Linked DNA regions of Homo sapiens: all the other regions are reported to be linked to region 1. Evidence: microRNA targets listed by miRTarBase, many of them from high-throughput screens and not tested one by one. Region 1 holds a microRNA gene; each other region holds the end of a gene's coding sequence.
What was found. Region 1 holds the annotated microRNA hsa-miR-1257 (AGUGAAUGAUGGGUUCUGACC, at 1,158-1,178, shown strand). A microRNA usually pairs through its seed, bases 2 to 8, with sites in the 3' UTR of a target mRNA and lowers its output. Matches are read on the target gene's strand: a 7mer-m8 pairs with bases 2 to 8, a 7mer-A1 pairs with bases 2 to 7 and ends in A, and an 8mer does both.

Region 1 (3,348 bases):
TATTTCACACTCAGCCTGCACGTGGGCAGCAGATGCAGGAGACAAGGAGACACGGGACACCTGGGGGTAGGTTTGGGATGGGCAGGTGGAGAATCCGTCTTAGTTGGTGGTAATGGAATGGTTTTAGTAGGTGGAAGTTACAAAGAAGCTTGTTTTGGTTTACCATGGAGTACAAGGGTACCATGGGGAGCCGAGCTGTCCAAATACAGAACTGGCTCTTTGCAGGCTGTCTGGTTGAGTGTGTGTTGGGGATGTTGCTGAGAGGATCTTGTCCTGCTGAGGGCTAGATAGGGCTCTTGAACGGTCCAAGTCAGCTTCCCATGAGGGGTCCCAGGGCCCCACAGCATCCGAGACTGAACCTGACAGGCCCACGGAAGGGCTGGTAGCTAACAGTCAGCACCCCAGCTGCAGTGGGACCCCTTGGCCTCCCTCCTGGGCTCCAGCTCCAGGCCTGGAAGGGCTGAACAGGCGGATGCAGTCCCAGCTGACAGGAAGTCTGAGGAGCAGCTTGTAATGAGCTTCGTTGGCTGACAGGTTTTTTTTTTATTAAAAAAATTTGTTTTTTTTGAGACAGAGTCTCGCTCTGTCACCAGGCTGGAGTGCAGTGGCATGATCTTGACTTGCTGCAAACTCTGCCTCCTGGGTTCAAGCAATTCTCCTGCCTCAGCCTCCTGAGTACCTGGTATTACAGGCATGCACCACCACCTGGCTGATTTTTGTATTTTTAGTAGAGACGGGGTTTCGCCACGATGGCCAGGCCAGTCTCAAACTCCCGACCTCGGGTGATCCTCCCGCCTCAGCCTCCCAAAGTACTGGGATTACAGGCGTGAACCACCGCGCCCAGCTGGCTGACAGTTTTATGTTACCACGAGTGCAGCTCCTTGTCAGGGCAGGTCTGTGATTGTGCTACGGCTCATTAACGAGATTGCAAATCATGCGTCTCTCCTGTGTGTGCCCACTCCCCCTGCAGGCCTCCGTGGCACTCAGTAAGCAGCGGGCTCAGGGAGAGCGTCCTGGATGGTCACCATGCAGGTAAGATGAGGAGGACACTTGGAACCAGGCATTGGATGCGAGCCCCACCCCATGGGAGGGGGACGGGGGGATGCTGGGCACCAGGGGGACCTGTGGGCCAGCTGGCCCTGGGCTTGTGCTTGGGGAGTGAATGATGGGTTCTGACCCCCATGCACCCCTGTGGGCCCCTGGCATCACTGGCCCCATCCTTCACCCCTGCCAACCACGCTTGCCCTGTGCCTCTGAAGCTCCCCCACTAAGGGGGTGGAGTCTAATTCCCTGCCCCTTGACTGTGGGTTCAGCCATGTGACTTGCTTTGACTGAGGGGATGTTCACGGGGCATGTGGTGCTCTGAACTGAGAGCTGCGGTGACCAGGCTGCTGTCCTGTGTTGCTGCCATCAGTGAGGGTGGCTAGCCTGCTGGTCAGGGGGAGGATGAGGGAGTGGGGGGCAGAGCTCAGCTGCCCCAGCGGCCTGGCCTGGACCAGCCAACCAAATGCTGACTCTGTGCTGCTGAGATCGTGTTTGTGTTTGTTACTCAGCAACTAGCTGATACACGGTCCCAGCAACAGACAAGGAAGCCCAGAGGTAGCTAAGTGACACTCCCAAGGCTACACAGCATCTCCTACTGGGAGCTGTGTAAGAAATGACCCCCCCCAAACCCTCCATCCTGGCAGCTGAGGGATGAAGGAGAGACCCAGTCCTCCTGTTGTCCACCTCCTCAATATCTAGGTGGGACCCCTACAATATCTTGATTTTTTAATGTTGACAATTGTGGTCAGCTGAAAAATCCCCCCCCCCCCACCCCCACCGCCCTAAAAGAAAAACAGCCCGTGAAGGTGACCTTATTTGGAAATAGAGTCTCTGCAGATATGATCAAGTTGAAGGTCTCAAGATGAGATCTTTCAGGACTAGTCATAGGCCCGAAATCCAATGGGAAGTGTCCATATGTAAGAGGGAGATGGAGGGAGGTTACACTAAGATGAAGTGAAGATGGAGGTGGAGACGGGAGTGATGTGGGCGTGAGCCAAGGAACTGGAGGCTGGAAGAGGCAGTGAGGGCTCGTCCCCTAATTCCCCGGAGGGAGCTCAGCCTTGCCGACCCCTTGATTTCGGCCCAGGGATACTGATCTCAGACTTTTGGCCTCCAGGACTGGGAGAGCATAAATGTCTTTCTTTTAAGCCACCGAGTTTGTGGGACTTTGTTACCTCAGGAAACAAATACAACAGTATATTCAACACTGTGAAGTGTGCTGTGCCAGGTGGACCGTGCCTGAGGCTGGGCCGGCCTGTGGTCTGCAGCATTGACCCCTTCTGAGCCCCCTGAGGGAGCCCCTGCCTGCCCCAGGCCAGGGTCTCAGTGCATCCGGCTGTCTCTGCCGAGGCCGCAGACCCTCCCTCTTGCACCTCCGTGTGCTTGAGATGAAGAGCCGGCGCTGTGTCCTCAGGCTGCTGAGGGGTAGCCCTTGGGTGGCTGGCCGTGGTCTCAGGGGCAGGAACGGCACAGGGGGCTGAGCAGGGATTTCAGGTGCTGTCCCTGCCCGACCCTCCCAGTTGGCCCAGCTGACTTCCCCTGCCTGGCTCAGCAGCGAGGGGCCCAGCAGCAGGGAGGTCAGTACCTTGGACAGCGTCCTGCAGCCCCCTGTGAGCCGAGGAGGGCTGTGTGTGTGTGCGTGTGTGTGTGTTTGCACGTGTGCATGTGTGTGCATGTGCACATGTGTGAGTGAGTGGGGGGTGCAGGGTCCCGCAGCTGGCTGGGCCATGCCTCTTTTGTCTGCCCTGCGGGTGGGTCTGTCAATACCTGGCTGAGTGGCCAGTGCCGTGGATGAGTGGCTCTGCCCAGCATAGGCCTGTGAACTGACCTCTCTGAATCCTCCTGGGACAGAGGAGTGACAGCGACCCCCATCCTGGGAAATGACCCAAGAGAAGGCCTCTGGGGCTCCCTGGAAAGGGCCTCAAGCTGGATTTTTCAGGTCGTTTGCCAGGCCCTGACCTCTAGGCCTGTAAGCTCCCCACTTGAAGCTGGGAGGGGGGTGCTTCGCAGATCACCTGACCCTCACCCCCACCACAGGGCCTCACCCTGGGAGTCTGATTACAAGGAGTGTCCCCCCACCAGGACTCCGGTCCCAGGCCTACAGCAGTTGCCTAATTGTGAATGTAATTAACTGCTCGCACCCTCAAAATTAGCAAGTGGTTAATTGTGCCTGTAATTATCAACTGCACCCATGATTAACCGTGTGAGTGGTTTTTTTTTTTTTTTTGAGACGGAGTCTCGCTCTGTCGCCCAGGCTGGAGTGCAGTGGCGGGACCTCGGCTCACTGCAAGCTCCGCCTCCCGG
Region 2 (3,348 bases), not on the chromosome of region 1:
GGAGATGCCTACTGCAAGGGTGGAGGTGGAAAACAAAGGCTGTGTGAGACGGGCACGGGGCTAAAGAGGAGGTAGCCATCCAAAGCAGCGATGACTCAGCTTTCAATGTGGGGAGTGTGAGAGCAGAACGAAAGGGCCACTCATAGCATGGAAACCTGCCTGGATGAATGGGCTCCACTCACTGAGAATCAGAACCCAGAAGGAAGCATCCCAGATTTCCAGCACGGGCACAGAACAGAACAGTTCCCATTAGGGCAATCTAGGCACGTTCCAGTCTACAAGGTTGGTGGGGAGGCAGGGAGAGAAGGGTTTGATAAGGATCATCTCCAATAATGGGTTAGGAGAACAACTTAAAAGCTTTGTTCATCACCTCCACAGAGAAAGGGTAATTGAAGGCACATTGATATATAACCAGGTGAAGAAAATAATGGTTTAAGGTAACAGGATCTTCTATTCCAAGAAGTTATTTTTCCGCCCTTTTGATCCTTTAAAATACTTTTGTAAAATTAGAGGGCAGTGTTAATGCTGCATTTAGAGACAGCTCTTGTAATACTAACATTTTGAACAGTCTGATACCTTCCCAAGCTCACTGTGGAGTAAACTGTCTACATAATTTAGCCTGTCTTTGTGTGGGTTTTTTTTTTTTACTTATTTATTAACTTATGAAGATAATATTCTAATACCAACATTAAAGTGTTTAAAATAATTAGCAAGCAAGATACGTTTCTGATGTTCCATTTGTCACCCTTACCTCTTCCCAGAAAATGTTCTCAGGCCAAGTTCAAGATGAACAGGTTGAACTTTTAGGAGGGTTGACTTTTGGTAATAGATAAAGCTTTTTGGGAAGGAGAAAGGTAATCACAAATAAGATTGAAATTGGCTTAAGTTTTAGGTGCACAAAAATATTCAACATGCCAGAGCATGGTTTAAAAAATATCAAATGGGTCAAATGAACTAGGAAATATTCTGCTACATCAAGAAAATATTTCATCTTAAAATACACATTTTTCTTTTTACCAGAAAATACTCTTAAAATAAATTGCCACCCTGGGGGCAGCCCATAGCAAAACTCATTTGAAATGTGTTCTGCATATAAGAGCTCATTACAAATCAAGGTTTGGCAAGGAAAACATTTCTTATAAACAAAATTTTAATTGAGTTTTTCTTCTCAATTATTTTTAAGTGCACGGAAACAAAGCACTAAAATGAGTGTCACGCTCATGAGAAATTTCTTTAGTTTTCTCTAAAATGCCTTTTTCTTTTAGATGAGGAAGGTGAGTTTCCTAAAAATTTTTTCCAACAAATCTTTTAAATTTAGGATTAGATCACCAAATTCCTAGCAAAACAGAAAAAGGGATCTTTTGCTTTACAGAAAAAAATAATCATTATAAATTGACACACATTCTAAACTTTTTTAGAAAATACTAATGCCAAATGTCAAACTGTTGCCTTGGTACAAGACTGATATGAAATATAAGAATGTCTTTAAAATTGGCAAAATGGGATGCTCCTGTAACAGCCAACCACGGGAGCATAAAATTCAAATTATAAATTGTCTTTGTTTCGTTTAAAGATAGTGCCATGTCCTCCTGATGGGGTAACCCTGACTTAAATGAATCTTCTTACCTAAGTTTAATTAAATCGGCCCTTAATTTTCTCCCAAGTGCATAATGATAGCTCTGTCACGTCCCTGTGTGAGCTGCCATTATGTGTGTGGAGCAAAGTGTCCGTTGTGAGTGCAAGAAGCTGTGCAGGCTCTCCTGGGGAGGGGAGTGAGATGCTTTGTATGAAGCGCGTGCCTGCCTGAGTGAGCCCCATGTAGCGTCAGTCCCATTAGCACGCACGCACCTGTGACACGCCGGACCCCGACTGGGGAAAAGCAGTCTGTCTGGAAGTTCACTGCAATGGGGAGTCAATTTTTGTGAATAACTACCTTAATATTCACTAATAGCTTTTAGGCTCCTAATCTCTTATTGAATATTTTTTTTCCATAATTGCTACTTTTCAAAAGGGTTGCCAAAGTAGGCATTTCTATTCTCTGAAAAATGCAGAAGAGAACATAATGTTTTATATTCATCTGTGATGTGTTTATGCTAATGTCGCATCTCTGGAATACGGCGACTGTGGGCCTTCCTGCCATCATGATTCATTCTCCTTTGAAAGGAACTGTTAACGCTGGCAGTGTGAATTTTTTTTTTTCTTCTTTAAAAAAAAATCTCTCTTTGCGTCATGGTTTTACCATTATTTAAAGTATATGGAAAAATAGATTACAGAGGAAATCATTTTGAAATGTTGAAAATCTCTGCTTTCTAGTTTCATTCATTGACCTGTTTATTTTTTCCTATAAAATCCATCCAGAAGCCCACTGTATTATAGAGTAATTGACTTCAATTGTTTGAGATACTGTTAACCCAAGAATGAAGTTTTCAGTAATGTAATTTGTAATCTGGCCTTTATCATCTACTTGCCTTTCTGAGAATTAGCATATTTTTAAGTAAAGCCAGTTCTTCGATCATCCTCAGTAAAATAAGAGTATCTAGGCTCCCTAGATTGGGAGGTCCAAACAAATCCATCTGTGCAGCATTTGCTTAATGTGTAAGGAACCAGAGGACTCTGGGAATAACCACGACAAAACAGAAGGAACCACTGAAAGGGAGTCCAAAATGAGCACCATGACATCTCTTAGCACAGTCTAGGAAGTCTTAGCCCCCTAGGAAGTTTCTCTTGGCCACGTGTTGGTGAATTTCGCATTCTCTAGCTATACTTCACGCAGACCTGGCACCGGCTGATTTTCTGGCGTTGGGCCTGGCTTTCTTTTAAGGTGTCTGGTGCTGGAGCAGAGGAAAACTGCAAGTCTGCTTTCACCGTTGTGAGCCAGAAGCTATACTTATTTGCGAAAAAGTGGCAAGTTCCCTGCCGGCCCTGGCATTCAAGGAATGGTGCTGCTCTGAAATCTTCCAGGCAGCTGCCAGGTGACATAAGGGCCTGCCCTCCTCCTTGGTCCCCAGCTCCTGTGTGCTACCCAGAAAACAAGAGAGAATTAGGGCTCAGACACACACAGACAACCCCAGACCCAATCAGGGACACACCCAGGTTTGGGTCTGATCTTAACATTTTTCCTTAGATTATTCCATAAAGAACAAAATACAAGCGCTGAAAAGGAGTCGTACTCAGCATGGTAAGTATGCACACAAATTGGCTCCAGTTTCACCGATGGCTGAAGCAAACTCATCTTCTAAATTCTACCAATGTGATCAAAATCAATCACAAGTGTTTTTAAAAGATAATGGCCCTGCATCCCAACAGGCTATGGTTTGCAACAGTCCCCGTAACCTTATGTCCTAAGCG
Region 3 (3,000 bases), not on the chromosome of region 1:
GAGGTAGAGGTTGCATGAGTTGAGATTGTGCCACTGCACTCCAGCCTGGGCGGTAGAGTGAGACTCCATCTCAAAAACCCCAAAACCTGGCATTATCAACTGCAGAGTCAACCTGTATAATTTTAACAAAACAGAGCAGTATTTCTGTTCTCAATTTTCAGAGTTGGCAGGAAGATCAGTATTCAAACACTGCAGCAAGTCACACAGTGTTATTCCTTGTCACTCAGAAAGCCTCTCTCCAGCACCAAGGCCTGACTGAGCCTGCGTCTCTTCTCTTACAGGCATGACAGCAAGCGCTGTGGCGGCTTTGATCCTCATGACGTCCTCCATCATGTCGGTCGTGGGGTCCCTGTACCTGGCCTACATTCTGTACTTTGTGCTGAAGGAGTTCTGCATCATCTGCATCGTCACGTACGTGCTGAACTTCCTTCTTCTCATTATCAACTACAAACGACTAGTTTACTTGAACGAGGCCTGGAAGCGGCAGCTGCAACCCAAGCAGGACTGACGCCCGACAGACTCCACCCTAACAGTCTCAAGCCCCTTTCCATTCAGTTTATTTTGCAGCAGGTTTTTATTATTATTATTATTATTATTATTCACAACAGACACTTTCCCTAAGAATCTCAAACTGATTTTTAAAAATCCGGTAAATTAGAAGGGGCCCTCGCTATTTTCTGTGTCAGTCTTCATTTTAAATATGGATACAAAAAGGATACGCCGAGCCAATCAAAGACAAGCTTTAACTTTACTTTGAAGTGTTTCTGAAATGATAAAATGTAGCCCTAGCCCCCTGCCCTCAATTGTAAAGTGAGCAACCATTGCTAGTAATTCTTTAATGTGTATAAATTCAATTTCAGGTATAACAAATGTGATCATGACATGAAAATATTCTAGAATAGATACTGTATTAAATATTGCCATGTTTACAATATGTAATATGTTTTTAGCCGATGGATTTAAACATGTAGATTCAACTAGAATCCATTTGTGATATTTGTAAATAAAGGTAGAAATATTAGATCCATTTCTGCAGAACTTACTGTACAGTTTAGTTGGAGTGTAGCACTGAAGAACTGTCAGCTCAGCGTTGACTGAGGAGATAGTGAAAATAGCCTATACACAGCATCTTGTGAAAAGTACTGGCAGCCGTGGTTGCAGCAAATAATAGGGCAAAAAAAATAATAATAGGGTGGTCGGTTCCCTTTCATCTCCCTCTTCTGAAAGGAAAAAATTGAATTGGAACGTTCAAGTCCAGTTTGTGTTCAGTCATAAAACTGGGCCAGTTGTTAACCTTACAGAATGAGTCATGTGGCCAGACCTTCAAGTCCAAGGCCTTCAGACACTAAGGATGGGAAAATGGGTATTTTTCTTTGGAGAAAAGCTGGAAATATAAACATGGCATTTTTAGGTAAAGTTTCTTCCACTAGTTGAATTTTCATGCAGATATTTTTCCTTAACGTTGGTGCCAGTCAAGCAAAGAGTATTATGATGGAAAAGACCAGTCCAAGCCCCATCGCTCCGGAGTGGGAGCCAGTGTTCTTGCTAATTGTTTCTTTCTGCACTAACCACTCAGATGTCTAATTTAATTGTTTTGCAGTCAAATACTGGATTTGTAACCTTCAGGGCTGACATGCTGCCCAGTTTGCTTCATCGGGAGAATAGCAACAGGTAGACACATCTCAAGGCTAAATCTGCTCATGTCGCCACTGCTCTCATAATGACACACATGCAGTAAGAAGACTTTTGTAAGGGGATTTGAGTACACCCAAATGAAATTGTGACAGGATGTTTGTATGGTTAACATCTGATATCAGAATGTTAAAAGTGCCTTCTGTCTTAAATCTCAAACCAAATATTTTGTGTGTTGACCTTGGGCAGAAGAAGTGTCCTTCCCTCCTTTCTTCACCGTCAGGTAGAAAACCTGCACTCTGCAGAAGGGTCCTGTGTGATCACTTAATCCTCTGGTTGAGAAGCAGCAGTAATGTTTTTGCTTCCAACCTGATTAATCATTTTATGTTGAAAATAGTCAATGAGACCAGTATCTCTTGAGTGCTTTATTTGCCTTCTCTTTGAAGGGAGGGGACGGGCTCTGCTCTGTAAACTCAAATGTGTAGAGTCAGCAACAATTCCGTAGCTTCCAACTGACTCAGAATTGATGCAACGTAGGTCTTCTGGCCCGAGGCAGGTATCAAGTCCAAATCATAATGAACTTTTCACCAGTTTCAACCAGTTTCTTAAAAGAGAGCTTAAGTCAAGATTTCATCAAGACTTGTGTTTTCCCATGAATGTGAATCTTTCAATGGCTGTTGGAGTATGTATGTACTGTTCTTGCATTCTGAAGTAGTTAAAGAACTCTAGAAAGTACTGATTGGCCATCTGGTGTCTATGGAGAAAGAAGTCCTCACGTTTGAGGGCTGTACAGTGAGGCCATCTTGTAGCAGCGCATCCAGCTCTACCAAGGCAGTCCTCTGGTTCTTTTTTCTAAGCTACAGTGGAAATGGCCTAATGGTTAAAACTGTGGTATACATGACATCGGTTGTGCTAAACAAGTTCCTCGTGTCCCAATATCCAATGGTTTTTCATCCTATTTTGTATCAATCAACAGAGTATAGTTAAAGCTTGTCTTGATGTTGCATTCTTGCAAATGTCTTCAACTCTTACCTGAGAAAACATGGCAAAATGGTCAGCCAGACCCTTCCAGTTTTTCCTTTGCTTTTCTAAGCCTCGGGGAAACCACTGTTTCAGTTGTATAAAAACTTTTGCCACATTCCTATGGCCCAGTCGAATTAATACCCTTTTTCTCACTGAGAGAGGAACACGTACTGCCTGTCATAACAGCATTGTAATGCCAGTGTCTCAGTAACAGAATCCTGGTGGGTGTTAATTGGGTGTTTTTTGCCCTGGAGAATTCAGATTCCTTTCTATACCTCCGATTCTGCCCAGAAGAGGGGGGGAATCACCAGTGTTACAAAATTAGAAGATTGTTTTGCCTGTTTT

Region 2: the mRNA of COL4A4 is a reported target of hsa-miR-1257. Seed matches in the 3' UTR shown: 7mer-A1 at 2,183-2,189 and 7mer-A1 at 1,921-1,927.
Region 3: the mRNA of VKORC1L1 is a reported target of hsa-miR-1257. Seed matches in the 3' UTR shown: 7mer-A1 at 598-604.

Annotation. Positions count from the first base shown.
Region 1 is chr20:61,951,451-61,954,798 of GRCh38, reverse strand. MIR1257 (microRNA 1257) reads left to right here and starts at 1,137; the gene lies at 1,137-1,253. RefSeq lists enhancers at 629-1,128, 1,939-2,511 and a silencer at 2,499-2,699.
Region 2 is chr2:227,004,571-227,007,918 of GRCh38, forward strand. COL4A4 (collagen type IV alpha 4 chain) reads right to left here. Exons shown (of 48, transcript NM_000092.5): 48 at 1-3,018. The coding sequence ends at 2,755. Among named protein-coding and RNA genes, the nearest start is that of COL4A4, 160 kb to the right of the region's middle.
Region 3 is chr7:65,953,793-65,956,792 of GRCh38, forward strand. It overlaps VKORC1L1 (vitamin K epoxide reductase complex subunit 1L1), which reads left to right. Exons shown (of 3, transcript NM_173517.6): 3 at 282-3,000. The coding sequence ends at 508. Among named protein-coding and RNA genes, the nearest start is that of GUSB, 27 kb to the right of the region's middle.